Linked DNA regions of Homo sapiens. The protein of the gene in region 1 interacts with the protein of each later gene in a biochemical or structural test. Each region holds a gene or a part of one and is shown in the gene's direction. Other genes may lie near its edges.

What was found.
Region 2: of the proteins of DHX33 (region 1) and TRIM33, one has a biochemical effect on the other in vitro, tested with the Homo sapiens proteins (one study listed by BioGRID).

The regions. Positions count from the first base shown.
Region 1 is NC_000017.11:5,444,658-5,452,034, reverse strand, and holds part of DHX33 (ATP-dependent RNA helicase DHX33), read left to right. Parts: intron 1-1,100; coding exon 1,101-1,228; intron 1,229-1,628; coding exon 1,629-1,832; intron 1,833-3,139; coding exon 3,140-3,226; intron 3,227-7,377. UniProt on the Homo sapiens protein: Implicated in nucleolar organization, ribosome biogenesis, protein synthesis and cytoplasmic dsRNA sensing. Stimulates RNA polymerase I transcription of the 47S precursor rRNA.
Region 2 is NC_000001.11:114,508,109-114,516,086, reverse strand, and holds the start of TRIM33 (E3 ubiquitin-protein ligase TRIM33), read left to right. Parts: upstream 1-4,883; 5' UTR 4,884-5,010; coding exon 5,011-5,536; intron 5,537-7,978. UniProt on the Homo sapiens protein: Acts as an E3 ubiquitin-protein ligase. Promotes SMAD4 ubiquitination, nuclear exclusion and degradation via the ubiquitin proteasome pathway. According to PubMed:16751102, does not promote a decrease in the level of endogenous SMAD4.

The DNA.
Region 1 (7,377 bases):
TATTTTGTTTGTAATTGCCTTGCTTTTCTTCACTGTTTTACTATATGCGTATGTATCCCTAAACCACCTGTTGTTTGTAAGTTTATGTTAGTTATTCTTGAGTAAGCGGTTTTCATTCAGCTTGTTCCGTATAGTATATTTGTGCTGATGCTTTTTCACACTAAGTGCTATTCCATTCTGTGAATAAACCAAAATGCATTTATCCATCCTTCAGTTGATAAATATTGCTTTAAAAAAGCAATGAGAAACACACTGCTTTTTTTCATTTAATACATTTTACAGATCACTCCTTATTGGGATGTATATATTTACTACATCCTTAGAAATGCTTTTTTATTCTTTAATAGGTACTATATTTACATGGTTCAAAGTTTAAAATATATAAAATAGTAAATAGTAATAATGTCCTTCTCATCCCCTTGTCTCCCAGCCTCCCCAGCTGGCCCCTGAGACAACTGCTATTTCCACTGTTATGTGTTTGGTTCTGGCGATATGGTCTCTGTGCGATGTGTATCTGCAGGTGAAATTCGTAAGTGTAACATTGCTGGGTCAGATGTTACACTTTTAATGTGTATATTCAAAATCTACATACATATTGCCAAATTACAGGTCATTTAAAAAGAAAATTGAGGCTGGGCATGGTGGCTCACACCTGTAATCCTAGCACTTTGGGAGGTCAAGGTGGGCAGATCACCTGAGGTCAAGAGTTTGAGACCAGCCTGGCTAACATGGTGAAACCCCGTCTCACTAAAAATACAAAAATTAGCTGGGCGCGGTGGTGGGCGCCTGTGGTCCCAGCTATAGGGGAGGCTGAGGCAGGAGAATCGCTGGAACCCAGGAGGCAGAGGCTGCAATGAGCCGAGATCACGCCATTGCACTTCAGTGTGGGCAACAGAGCAAGACTCTGTCTCAAAAAAGAAAAGGGAATTGAACTAAAGACAGTGATGTCGTTCTTTGACAAGTGTGTCAAGGGGGCAGTGGCGGTTATGATTTTTGCTGTTGTTTGATGTAGAATTATCAGAAGCTCCCAGAAATACTGAACTAGCTGCAACTTCATTTTTTTGGACTTTTGGCTCCTTTTTATGTCTCTGTTTCTTTAGATCACATTCAGGCGGCCATTGCCCAACTGGACCTGTTAGGTGCTCTTGAACATAAGGATGACCAGCTTACCCTGACTCCAATGGGAAGAAAGATGGCAGCATTTCCTTTAGAACCCAAATTTGCCAAAGTAAATGATACCCTCTCCTCAGTCCTCTTTCTGTACATTACAGTTAACCGTCCCAAAGTAGTACCATCTACCCAGTGCTTCTAGATTAATCTCACTTTTTCTCTTACATAATTACCAACCCCTAGTTTGCAAATAGCCCTGATTCATGTTCAGTGTGGGATTCAAAGAGATGAAGTTAAGAGCCCCTACCCACAAGAAATTTGGAACTCTGTAGGGAAGGCAGTCACCTGTTTTATTGAATATTAAAGAGTGAAATAACACTAATGTACATCGCCATGGTTTTAGAAATACCTGCCCTTTAACTCCTTAGAAGGGAAACTGCAAAAGCAATGTACAGAAATAGTGCATTCTAAAGCTAGGAGAAAGCTGGGTTTACACAATTTTAAATTTTGCTTTGCAGACCATCCTCATGTCCCCCAAATTCCACTGTACAGAGGAGATCCTGACCATTGTCTCCCTGCTGTCTGTGGACAGCGTCCTCCACAACCCTCCTTCCCGGCGAGAGGAAGTGCAAGGGGTCCGCAAGAAGTTCATATCCAGCGAGGGGGATCACATGACCCTGCTCAATATCTATCGGACCTTCAAAAACCTAGGCGGAAATAAGGTGAGCCTTGTCTTGCACCTGTTCTCCAGCGATAGCTGCTTGTCTCTGCTATGTGCTTCCCTTTTTCTACTGAAGCCGTGCAAAAAGTACGCTTTCCCTTTTTGGCTAAATTATCTAAAGAATCACAAAAAGAAAGCCAGACAGCATTTCAGAAATGCTTCAGTACCGAAGCAGTGTCATTCTGGTCTCTGTTCCGAATGTGTTTAAGTCAACAAGACTTAAGTGACTCCCAACCCATCAAAACTTAATTGGAACTTGATTAAGTAATATGTCTAATAATGATAGTGCGTACCAATGAATGAGTACTTACTCTGTGCCAAGCCCCATGCTAAGCACTTCTTAATGTAAGATCTCATTTATTCAGTAAAGTAATCCTAAGAAATGAGCACTATAATTATTATTTTTTATATTCATGAAACATGTAGTCATGGAAACGAAGCTTCGTGCAGTTGAAAAACTTGCCCAGGGCCAGGCACAGTGTCTCAAGCTTGTAATCCCAGCACTTTGGGAAGCCAGGGCAGGTGGATCACTTGAGCCCAGGACTTCCAGACCAGCCTGGCCAACATGGCAAAACCCCGTCTCTACTAAAAATACAAGAATTAGCCGGGCGTGGTTGTGCATACCTGTAATCCCAGCTACTCGGGAGGCTGAGGCATGAGAATCATTTGAACCTGGGAGGCAGAGGTTGCAGTGAGCCGAGATCGTGCCACTGCACTCCAGCCTAGGTGACAGAGCGAGACTCTATCTATCTCCAAAAAAAGAAAAAAGAAAGAAGTCTTACATAAATTGACTGGGCATTTCTGTTTTGTTTTCTGTGTCTGTTCATATCCTTTGTCCATTTTTCTACTGGGTCGTTGGTCTTTTTCTTAATGACTTGTAGAACTTTTAAAATCAATTCTAGAGATTCTAATCATTTATTGGGTATGATGAGACAAATATCCCAATCTGGGAAACTTCAAGTTTTTCTTTAGTTTAAATTATTAACACTTTTCTTATAGTTCATGTTTTTTGATATAAAGATATTTTCCTACGTTTCTTTTTGGCACCTGAAGTTTTTTCTCTGAATTCAACTGTGTTCTAAAAATGTTGTTATATTTTCTCTATAGAGATGAGAGGATTGTTAGCTGGGCATGGTGGCATGTGCAGATAGTTCAAGCTATCTGGGAGGCTGAGGTGGGAGGATTGGTTTGCAGTGAGCTATGATTGTATCACTGCACTCCAGCCTAGGGAACAGAGCAAGACCCCGTCTCTGTGAACATATAAATGGTGAATGAGTGGATTGTGATATCACTCTTTCTCCTATTCAGGATTGGTGCAAAGAGAATTTTGTCAACAGCAAGAATATGACGCTGGTAGCAGAAGTCAGAGCACAGCTGAGGGACATCTGCTTAAAGGTATCGTCTGGTCCTAGTGTTCTGTGGGTGACAAAGCTGTCACTTTGTTCAAGGTAGAAATTTTGAAGTTGCTTATTGCTAGTGATTATAAAAGGATTTCTCATTGTAGCAAATTTCACAAATAAGAAAAAAGGAAGTTACCCACAATTCCACAATTCAGTAGTTTAGCCTATTTCCTAATAGCCTAGTTTTTATTGTATTTTTTTACATAGTAAATTATATGTATAATTTATATTTGGTTTTATAATCTTTATAAGCATTTTCCAGTGTTAGAATTCTTCATAAGATTTTTTTTAAGTATGAATATCTGCATTATTTCCTTTTAGATTACCAAAGTTGTGTATAGTATTTGACACAATGCAGAAAATAGTGATTTATAATGTAGAAAGTTTAAAAGTCTCCCATAATCCTGCCCCTCCAGAGATAACTACTGTTAACAGTTTGGGGTAGCTCCTTCTAGAATTTGTTTCTGTGTATGTATGTTTTTGTGCATGTCTCTGTGCCTGTGTGTGAGCACACACATAACGGATACGTGCATATGAGGTACATGTTCCACAACTTCCTTTCTTCCACATGGCATATTTCTTTCTTTCTTTCTTTCTTGTTTATTATTTGAGACAGAGTCTTGCTCTGTCACCCAGGCTGGAGTGCAGTGGTACCATCTTGGCTCACCACAGCCTCCGCTCACTGCAACCTCTGCCTCCCGAGTTCAGGTGATTCTCCTGCCTCAGCCTCCCGAGTAGCTGGGATTACAGGCGTGCGTCACCACGCCTGGCTAATTTTTGTATTTTTAGTAGAGACGGGGTTTCACCACGTTGGCCAGACTGGTCTCGAACTCCTGACCTCAGGTGATTTGCCCGCCTCGGCCTCCCGAAGTGCTGGGATTCCAGGTGTGAGCCACTGTGCCTGGCCTCACATGCGTATTTCTCAAATCCTTCCTGTGGCTGGGCTTTCAGTGCTGCATGTGTCTAGCTCATTCATTTTAGTGATTTCATAGCATTTCATTGTATTCAGTGCAGTTTATTTAAGCCTCTAATAATGGTCATTTAGATTCTGTTGTAGTGACCATCCTCCGTATGTGCTGTGGTGCACACAGAATGAATTTCTAGATGGGGGAATTTGGATTTTGTTAGATATTGCCAAAGTGTCCACCGCAAAGTGTTTTTTTTCCTTTCTTTTTTTTTGAGACGGAGTTTTGCTCTTGTTGCCCAGGCTGGAGTGCAGTGGCGCGATCTTGGCTCACCACAACCTCTGCCTCCCGTGTTCAAGCAATTCTCCTGCCTCAGCCTCCCGAGTAGCTGGGACTACAGGCATGACCCACCACACCCGGCTAATATTTTGTATTTTTAGTAGAGACGAGGTTTCACCATGTTAGCCAGGATGGTTTTGGCCTCCCAAAGTGCTGGGATTACAGGCGTGAGCCACCACGCCCGGCCTAATTTTTTGTATTTTTAGTAGAGACGGGGTTTCACTATGTTGGCCAGGCTGGTCTCGAACTCCTGACCTCAGGCGATCCACTGGCCTTGGCCTCCCAAAGTGCTGGGGTTCCAGGTGTGAGCCACTGTGCCCGGCCCACAAAGTTTTATATTAGCTTTTTATTCCCTCTTAGAGTACATGGTGTTTTAAAGAGCTGTCATGGTATATTTAATGCTCGCATGACACTCCACATTTTATGTCAGAGATAGAGGGTAGCGGAAGTGTTCTTTTGCTGTTGATCACTGAGACAGTGTCCGTGTGTTTGCTGCTGTCCTGAGTACTCTGTGGTGAATGTCTTGTGCCCCCTCAGTGCGGACGCTGCTGGGAGACAGTCACAGCCTGTACCCAGGCCTGTGTCTGATGCCAACGGCCTACGGTTGGCACTAGAGCTGTTTCTTCTCATAGTAGCCTATTGTATTCTGTCTTTCACACATTTTTTTAAACTGCTTTTGTATTTGAACAGTTTCCTGCCAGTCTGTCTCTTGGCTTCATAAGTTTTCTCAATTTATCATTGACAGTAGAAACGGTGCTTCTCTATTAGTTGTGAATTTAGGACCCTGTAGTGGCCAGGGATACCTCTCATTATATGTCAGGCACTGGTAAGGTCCTGAGACTTTACAGACATGCCTACTCAGTAACTAAGTAATAATCTAGATGGTGACCTGACGTACATACACTCATGCCAGGAGGCCATCAAATTAAAATAATCACTATCATTCATGAAGTGTTTGTTCAGCACTGTTCTGAGTACTTTTTATGTGGCTGCCTTATTTAAACTCCTCATTTCTTTTTTTTTCTTTTTCAACTCAGACCTTAACCCAAAGGATAAAATCCTCATTTCAACCTATAAGATTGATTCTTTTGTTATTCCCATTTTACAAATGATGAAACTAAGCCTAATCAGGTTAAATAATTTGCCCCAAATCACTCAGCCAGTGAGTGGTAAAGCTGATAGTCTGGAAGGAGAGACCACCAGTTAGCCTCTGGGGCTTCTTGGAGGTGGTGACAACTGAGCTAGATCTTGACAGATAAGGAGATAAAAGAGTATCTTCCAGGCCAGGTGTGGTGGCTGGCTTATGCCTCTAGTCCCAGCACTTTGGGAGGCCCAAGCAGGTGGATTGCTTGAGGCCAAGAGTTCGAAATCAGCCTGACCAACATGGTGAAACCCCATCTCTGCTAAAAATACAAAACTAAGCTGAGCGTGGTGGTGCATGCCTATAACCCCAGCTACTCAGGAGGCTGAGGCACAAAAATCGCTTGAACCCAGGAGGCAGAGGTTGCCAGCGAGCTGGGATTGTGCCACTGCACTCCAGCCTGGGCAACAGAGTGAGACCCTGTCTCTTAAAAAAAAGTATCTTCTTCAGGCATAGATCAGCTGATTGTCAACAACAGAAACCCTAGAGCCATCATAAAGGACAAAATAAAGATTCTTCCAAGGATGGAAAGGTATCTCTGAGAACCGATAGGCAGGAAATAGAGTCACAGGAACCAGAAAAAGCCTGCAGGAGCCAGGCCCGCCACTTTCTCTGGACCTGCTGCTTCTCTTGCTTTGAGTGCCCTCTGCGTGCCTCCTTCCCTTTTCTCACCTTTACCTCCGCATGGAAGTGATTTCTCTGCATGGCCCCTCCACTCAAGAGCCCAGCAGAGATTGACAAGTTTTCCAGTTTCAAACCTAAAAGATGCCTGGAAGAGAAAAGCTGGCCAGCTTAGGTCCAGCGTGTGTGTACCACTGGTTTGTTCATCTGTGCCCAGGGGCGTAGGTTACATGCCCCACTCATCAAGAGCAGTAGAACAAGGACATTGACTGGTGACTGACATTTCCTCTGATGAGACAGGCAGCATTTCTACTAAGAGTAGCAAATGTGAAGGCACAGATAGGAATCATGAAACGGGGCGAGGAAAGAGAAGGCAGCCAGCTATGGGGGACCATGGAGTGTCTAAAGAAGAGTGGTGAGGCCGGGCGCGGTGGCTCACGCCTGTAATCCCAGCACTTTGGGAGGCCAAGGCGGGCAGATCACTTGAGGTCAGGAGTTCAAGACCAGCCTGACCAAAATGGTGAAACCCCGTTTCTACTAAAAATACAAAAATTAGCCAGGCGTGGTGGCAGGCGCCTGTAATCCCAGCTACTTGGGAGGCTAGGGCAGGAGAATAGCTTGAACCTGGGAGGTGGAGGTTGCAATGAGCTGAGATTGCGCCATTGCACTCCAGCCTGGGTGACAGAGGGAGACTCAGCCTCAAAAAAAAAAAAAGAAAGAAAGAAAAAGAGCGGTGAGAGGAAAGACAGGCGAGCAGCTCAGGGTGGCTCCTTCGTGGCTTCACCACGGGAAGTTTGCATTGTTTTGCAAGGAGCAGTAGAGACATTGTTGAAGGTATTTGAGTGGATGAAGAGTGATTCGAGTTGTGCTTTAGGTAGATTAGCTTGGCAGCAGCAGGTGGGTGAATCGGAGTGAGGAGATGGTGAGATGGTCAAAGCGAGAGGGAAGGGCCTTTCCTTTCCGGGCCGTCCTGATGGAATTTAGGTGAGGGGTGGGTCACCCAACCTGCCTGTGGTCTGGTGGCTAATGTGAGCACCTCCCTCCCAGCCCTACCTTCACAGGCGGTAGTTTCCCTGTTTCTGGTCCGTGCTCCTCCAGCTGGGCCTTCTTCCCCTGACCTTGCTGATCCTTGGTGACCAC
Region 2 (7,978 bases), on another chromosome or scaffold:
CTTGTTATATTGCCCAGGCTGGTTGCAACCTCCTGGTCTCAAGTAACCCTTTAGCCTTGGCCTCCCAAAGCACCGGGATTACAGGCATGAGCCACAGCGCCTGGTCATGGAAATAGGGATCTTTAGGAAAAAAAAAAAAAAAAGGAAAAAAATTGCATGTTAATTTCACTTTTTTATTTATAGTAGCAAAATACATCAAAACAATTTAATAATCCATATGGAATACTTTAAATTTACATATTAAAAACTTTTACAATGGGCATATTCTTTGAATCAGCAATTCTTTTAGGAATATTCAGAAGAAATAATTATAGATATGCAAATAATTATGCATCACAATGCTTTTCACAGTATTGTTTATAATAGTAAAAAATTGAAAACCTTATTGTCTATGAATAGATAATACATTACAGTACATTCACATAAGGAAGTCTATTTATTGTTGAGCTATATTTTACTGGTTGCAAAAATTAAGAGATGTGTGTGAAAGCACTTTGTCAACTGTAAACTGCTGTTCAAATGTGGTGTTTATTACTAGAATTACAACGTGCCCCTGAAAGGCCTTAGAGACACAGAAAAGCCAATAGATAGTAATTAGACTCAGAACTCTGCTATCTGTCCTGCTTTTCTTGGTACTAATAGTTCTCACTCAGACAACAGAGTACCTAGAAGTCAAAGTGTACTTGGTACACCATGGAATGATGAGAACTAAACTTTACATTATTTTTAAAATTTGTATTAATAAATTTTTTTTGTAGAGATGGGGGTCTTGCTATGTCGCCCAGGCTGGTCTTGAACTACTGGCCTCCAGTGATCCTCCTGTTTTCCTCCAAAGTGCTGGTATTACAGGTGTAAGGCACCACACCCAGTTGAGAAGTGAACTTTAAAAGATAAAATGTCACCTTTAGATCCTCTGGCCTCACCCATTGGTGAGTGCAAGTATTGTACATTTACAGAAATATCCCAGATTTCAGCTGCAGCTCAGCATCCTTCTGCCGGTTCTCATGTACTCTTCTGTTCCTGCTGTTCAGCATGGCTGCTCTGTCCAGAAGGTGCAGACCAGCCTTTGCAAATCTTCACGCTACCCTTGGGCTACTGCCTTGCTTTTGCCAACCTCCTGTGCCCAGATGATGGACACATCGTGTTCTCACCATTGCTTACCTACCTGGGTCACTCACCTCCAATGCCCTTTCTCTTTCCTAGACAACTGGAAAACTCCTTCCACTATTGTTTACCAGCAACTTAGAGGAGTTTTCTTCATAGCAGAACTGCTATGAACCTCCTAAGAGCTCTTTCCTTTATTTCAGAACTGGTTTTTTCTGATAATGCTCAAACCAGAGGAACAAGGGATAGTAGCCTAGGTCAGGAAAATGGCTGGACACAGCCTCTACCTCTACCTGCTGCTCAGTTTGGGCCACAGCATGATTCCTCTTCTTGAAATTTTCTCTCAGTGGCATGTGTTTCTCCTGCCAGTTCTGTTTCCTTCAGGGAACTTTGGGTCTACTTTAACATCCATGTTCACCATGTGCTGGGTGCTGTTATTAACGTTTTACAAATATTGTTTGTGAGGCAACCTTGAGGTAGGTCCTACCCGTAGCAAACACCCTTTCATGACTGAGGGAACTGAGGCAACCTAAGTAAGTTTCCCTAAATCACATAGCTAGTAGGTGATGGAACCAGATTCAAACCAAGCATTTTGTCCCAGGGCATAATGAACCCCATGCTATGCAGTCTATTAGACAGGTTTGTGCATTATCGTATCTCAGCCTCATCTGTGGACTTATTTCATAGTTTCTCCTGCAAGATTTCTGGGCTCCCACAGAAAATCAAGGATGTAACTGGGTCTGTTTCAATGATCCTAAATATTTCATGAGTTATACTCCAGGCACTGCCTTCTCAGAGCACACAGTGAACTTCATGGGGGCTGTTTCCATCCTATACAAATTATATAGTTTTCAAAAACAACACTTTTATTCTAGATTTTAATAAAGGCAAATGTAGCAGGCATCAAAAGGTTAAGAAAACTCATGGAAGCAAAACTTTTGGTTGAGAAATTCAGTTCATTAGCTTATTTTTTTGAAGTGAATTTGAGAAGAAGTGTTTATGATTTATACTCCATATTTTTCACCACCTTTACAGATTCTAACCTGATCCAACCAACCGAGTTATTACCCTATTAGCCCCTTAACTGGTCTTCCTTATTCCACTGACCATTTACAGGTGATTCCTCTAGGAAGCAGCCACAGTGACTCTTTTCACAATTCTGCTTTGAGTCTTTGCTCAAAACCCATCCAAGCCTTCCTATCTGACTCAGTGGTCCTAAGGCTAGGGTATGAGTACTCCTGGGGTACTTCAGTGAAGGAAAATTTTCCAAGGGGTACATAAAAAAGTAAGGGTAGTTTTAAGGGAATTACTCCATCATATATGTGAGTGTGTAGATACATACATGTATACATATATAGTTTTTAATGCAGTAAAGACTGTGGCAATGAAAAATGGAGTTGATACAGGACCTTATCTCATTCTAGCAATGTTATATGCATTCATGCCTACTCGAAATAATTAGGGGAAGGGGGAAGACTCCCAGCCATATCATTAAAACATTCCCAATACTTTTCCATGTTTAAAAAATATAACATTTTAATATACTTTAAAAAATGGATAGTATTAAGCCACTTTAGTGTTTACTTCCCTATTAGATTAAAAATAATTTTTAAATGTCAGTATTACAGAATGTCACAAATTAAACTCTGCAACTATTTAAACTTCTGAAAAAATTTAGTCAACTTACAATGTTTGAGGAAAGAAAACAGCCTTCCAAAATTCTTTCAAAGGGCACAAAAGTTAAAAAAAAAATTGAAGACCATTTCTGTACATGACCTGGCTCCCTTAATAACTCTCTTATCTCATGTCCTACTATTCTCTCCCTTGTTCAAGCCACTCCAGCCACACTGACTCCTCCTCTAACAAGCCAAGAATCCGTTTCCCTCAGGCCCTTTGCACTTGTTATGTGTTCCTCTCCTGCTCTTCTCCAAGACAGGTTCCTTCATCTGATCAACAGGGGCCTTCTTCAATCACCTCTAACCCCTTTTACCCCACTTATTCTTTTCTTCACAGCACTTACCACTCCCTGGCATGTATCTATTCTCAATCTTTTTCTCTATTAGATTGTAAACCCCTTGAATGCAGGGAGCTCCTCTGTTTTGTAATCCCAGTGTATCTCTAAAACACTATGACAATAAAGAGGTCAGGAAACATTTTTGAATAAATTTTAAAAAGTTTTCAGGAGGCTGGGCGCAGTGGCTCATGCCTGTAATGCTAGCATTTCCAGCGGCTGAGGCGGGCCAATCGCTCGGGCCCAGGAGTTTCAGCCTGGGCAACATGGTGAGACCCCAGCCTCTTCGAGGCAAAGGGAAAAAAAAGATCAGCTAAGTCATGGTGGCGTGCATCTACGGTCCCAGGTAATTGCGAGGAGCACGGCTTGAGCCTGGGAAGTCGAGGCTGCAATGAAATGTGATGACGCCACTGCACTCCAGCCAGGGCGACAGAACGAGGAGGTCTCAAAAAAAAAAAAAGTTTTCACGTGGTTTAAGGACTTACAGCACCTTTCTTGGGAACACTAACAGGAGACCAAAGCATTTCATGATCTTAACACTAAAACAGTTGTTGCACTACATAAAATCCTCCAAATACCTTTTTTTTTTTTTCAAATAAAAAGGCAACTTTCTGAAAGCTTTTCTTTTTTTTTTGAGACGGAGTTTCGCTCTGTCGCCCAGGCTGGAGTGTAGTGGCGCTATCTCGGCTCACTGCAGCCTCCGCCTCCTGCCGGGTTCAAGCCATTCTCCTGCCTCAGCCTCCTGAGTAGCTCGGATTACAGGCGCACGCCATTACACCCGGCTAATTTTTATATTTTTAGTAGAGACGGGGTTTCACCATATTGGCCAGGCTGCCCACGAACTCCTGACCTGACCTCAAGTGATCTGCCCGCCTCGGCCTCCCAAAGTGCTGGGATTACAGGCGTGAGCCACTGCGCTTGGCCTGAAAGCTTCTACTACCATTGTTGTAAGGGCATTTGTCACCCAGCTCAACCCAGGACACTTAAAGTGGGACCTCAGAAGGACGCAGTATTGGTTATATCCGTGGCTCTCCAAACTGACATACATAAGAATCAGCTGAAGGGACTTTTCCCCCTCCGTCGGCTCTCTCCCTCACTTCCTGATTCAGGTCTGGGGACTGGCCCTGGCATCTCTGCTTTGAAAAACTCCTCCGTTGATTCTGATACGTAGCAACTCCTGAGAATCACCTTAAGATGCCAAAAATAGCTGTTAAAGAGTTTCTTCCTCACTCGGTCTTTTCAGCCTATTTCTGATAGATCCTCAGTTCAAAAACAAAAAGCAAAAAAAAAACAAAAAAAAAAACCAAAACCAAACAAACAATAAGCCCCGCTTTAGTGCTCCACGGCCACCCAAAGGAACGCGGCTGGTCTACGCACAGCAGAGACCCAGGAGGTCCCGGCGATCGAGCGGCGCGGCAGGTGAAACTTCCGCGGAGACGCCCGGGACACGCTCGCAGGGACCGGAACCGTCCCGGCTACCACCCTTCCGTATGCACCACCGCTGTGTCGGAGTTCATAACCAACCCCAGCCAAAGGCTACCCAGCGTCAACGGCCTCTGGCTTTAAAAAAAAAATCTCCCTTCGGGTTAAAGAGCCGCGGCACTGACGCAAGGAACTGGCTTCGAGGGTCCGGGACCGCTCCGCGCCCGCGAACCGAGTTCCCGCCTCCCTCGGGAGGACGTCCGTGCGTACGTGCGCGTGCCGCAACCGCCCTCCTTCAAACGCGCGACGCGAGGGCGGGGGCGCCGCGTGCGCGCGCGCTCTCGTTGGTTCGCTCTCTCGCTAGCTCTCGGCTGCCGCTCTTGCTGCGGCTGCGGCTGGGGCTGGGGGCGGCGGCGGCGGCGACGCGGGCGGCGGGCGGCGCGGGGCGGTCCGGCGGGTTCAAAGAGGAAAACATGGCGGAAAACAAAGGCGGCGGCGAGGCTGAGAGCGGCGGCGGGGGCAGCGGCAGCGCGCCGGTAACTGCCGGGGCCGCCGGGCCCGCCGCGCAGGAGGCGGAGCCGCCTCTCACCGCGGTGCTGGTGGAGGAGGAGGAGGAGGAAGGCGGCAGGGCCGGCGCTGAGGGCGGCGCGGCCGGGCCCGACGACGGGGGGGTGGCCGCGGCCTCCTCGGGCTCGGCCCAGGCTGCTTCATCTCCTGCGGCCTCAGTGGGCACTGGAGTTGCCGGGGGCGCAGTATCGACGCCGGCTCCAGCTCCAGCCTCGGCTCCCGCTCCGGGTCCCTCGGCAGGGCCGCCTCCTGGACCGCCAGCCTCGCTCCTGGACACCTGCGCCGTGTGTCAGCAGAGCTTGCAGAGCCGGCGTGAGGCGGAGCCCAAGCTGCTGCCCTGTCTTCACTCCTTCTGCCTGCGCTGCCTGCCCGAGCCGGAGCGCCAGCTCAGCGTGCCCATCCCGGGGGGCAGCAACGGCGACATCCAGCAAGGTGAGCCGGAGGCCCTGCCTGGCATCTGGGCCGCAAGGGATTTGCGCAACCCTAGAGGAGCTGGGGACGGAGGTGCTGGGGCCTGGGGCTGCTCGGACGGGCGCCATCCCGAGGGGTCTCTAAGGTGAAAGACTCGCCCCTGGGACACTTTCCAGAGAAGCTGGACCGCAAGAGATAAGGGGAGCATGAAGGGAGGGGTGCCGGCTGCGAGAGGCTGGGGGAGGGGACACTGGCTCCGAGGGAGGGTTTGTGATGTGCGGAACCCGGCCGAGCGCTGGTTCTGGAGCTGGCAGACCCGTACAGTGAGAGAAGGGGGATTTGGGAAACACGTTGTGAGGAAGCGTTTTGGCTGAAAGGGCCCGGGCCAGCGAGGTGTTGAGGGAGTAGGTAAGAGGTAAGGGCAGTGAAGATGGATTGCTTTGGAGGGAGGGGACTTGGCGTGTTCACAGATAGGAGAGAGGAGGACTATGGATTAAATGGAGGTGGAGAGAATATGTTGGAGAGCAAGGGGTCCAGAGAAGGCGCCTGGAAGAAAATTGTAAGATGACATGGGGAAAGAGAAACTCGGAAAGTGGACTGCATGGTTAGGGAAAATCCTAAGGTTTGGGGATGAAGGAGAAATGAACTTTGAAGGAAATTGAGAGTTAGGGAAAGCTGGGCATGAATTTGTTTTAGCTAATTGGCCGTTAATGAGCCCCTAGTGTTGGGGCACTGTGCTAGGATTGAATAAAGTACTCAATGAAGACTTCATTCACAGTCTAACAGGAGAAACATATAACTTGCAGCAGTGGAGGTGAGTCCTCAGTACAATGGTTGTGGCACAATAGAGGAAAGGTCAGGGAAATTTCACAGGAAAGGAAATCCATGAACAGGTTTCTTGAAGAATGAGTACCTCACTGGGTTGGAGGGTATTCAGGGCACAGGACACCCTTCTACATCCCTGGAACTAAAGACTGTGTAGGGTGATTGGTGGAAATTAGATTGGATTGATGGGCTGAAAAGATAAAGGTTTCACAGTCTCTTAAACTCTTGGGATCCAGGTGTAAGGACTTCAGAATATTTTGGGATTTTTCTTTTTTCTGGCAAGGTCTGTTATGTGAGACTTTTATCAGGGTCTGAGTTAACTCTATCAAACACGTTAATGTTTCTACATTGAAACACGTGAATGTCACGCTAATGGGATAGACGATAAATAACCTCCCAGCATTCACAGTGGGTTCTGTTGCAAACCAATGAAAAAAATTAAAATTTCAAAGCTTTTGAATTTCGGGACTGTAGGTAAGCGATTGTGGAGCTGCACTAAAGGGCTTGGAATTCATCCTGTAGAGTGTATCCTCGACATTGTGGACTGAAGGATGTTCCTGGAGGGCTTTCATATCAAGAGGATAAAAGGATCAGATTTCTGATCCAGAAAGATCACTTAGGGCACTTGAGGGATGAGGGAAGGCAAGGCTGGAGACAAGGAGACCAGTTAGGAGAATCCTGGCGGTTATCTAGGAAAGAAATCAACATTTGGAATGGGTAGTAAAGGAATGATATATCAGGTATTACAGAATGAAGCATTTTGGTTTGGGGGAACGGTAGGGTTTGGAAATCTACTTTGCCATCTCCTACTTACGACTTGGGCAGATGACCTTTTCTTAGCTTCAGTTTTCTCATTTGTGAAATGGGAAAAAAGTATATAACCTCATAGGGTTATTGAGAGAATGAAGTAAGATAAAATGTGTAAAGTGATTAGTACGTGGTAGTTACTAATGAAATGGTAGCTAGTATATTAATAGTAGTAACTAATAGTGGCTATGGGAATGGAGGGATGGGGGGAGTGTATTGAGATTGGTGTGAGGGAGACAAACGTAGAATTCCACATTTTTTGTTTGGTGGATGGCAATGCTATTAATACATATTCAGACACTGAAGCAGGGCTGGGGTGAGGGTGAGGGCTGGGGTGTAGGGAGGATAAAATGTTTTCAGATTGGGATGTTTTGGGTTTCTAGCATTATTGGTACATGTAGGTAAGAATGTTAAGAGTAAGGCTTTGGTTGTTGGAGAAGCTACTAATTGTTAGTAGGTGTTCAGAGAATAACTGCTGGTGGTCTGTGCACCCATGACCATAGTAAGACACATAGGATTCAGTGTTCTTGTGGGAACCTGGGTTAGGTAAGAGATTTAGAGGGAACCCAGAAATACAGATTGTGTTTGACTGATGTGGCTGAGGGACTGAGGTTATGAAATTGGCTCTCTGAAATTTATGAAGGAGAGAGAATAATATGTAAATCCCCTCTTCATTTCTTTATCCTTTCTTTTTGAAGGAGGGGGAGTAAGTGGAAGGGACTAACCAAATGCTGTCAATCTTAAGTAATATTTCTCTCTAACCAATATCTAAAACAAATTGAGTCTGGAATCCACCATGTTTTTGATTAAAAAAAATTTTTTTTTGAGACA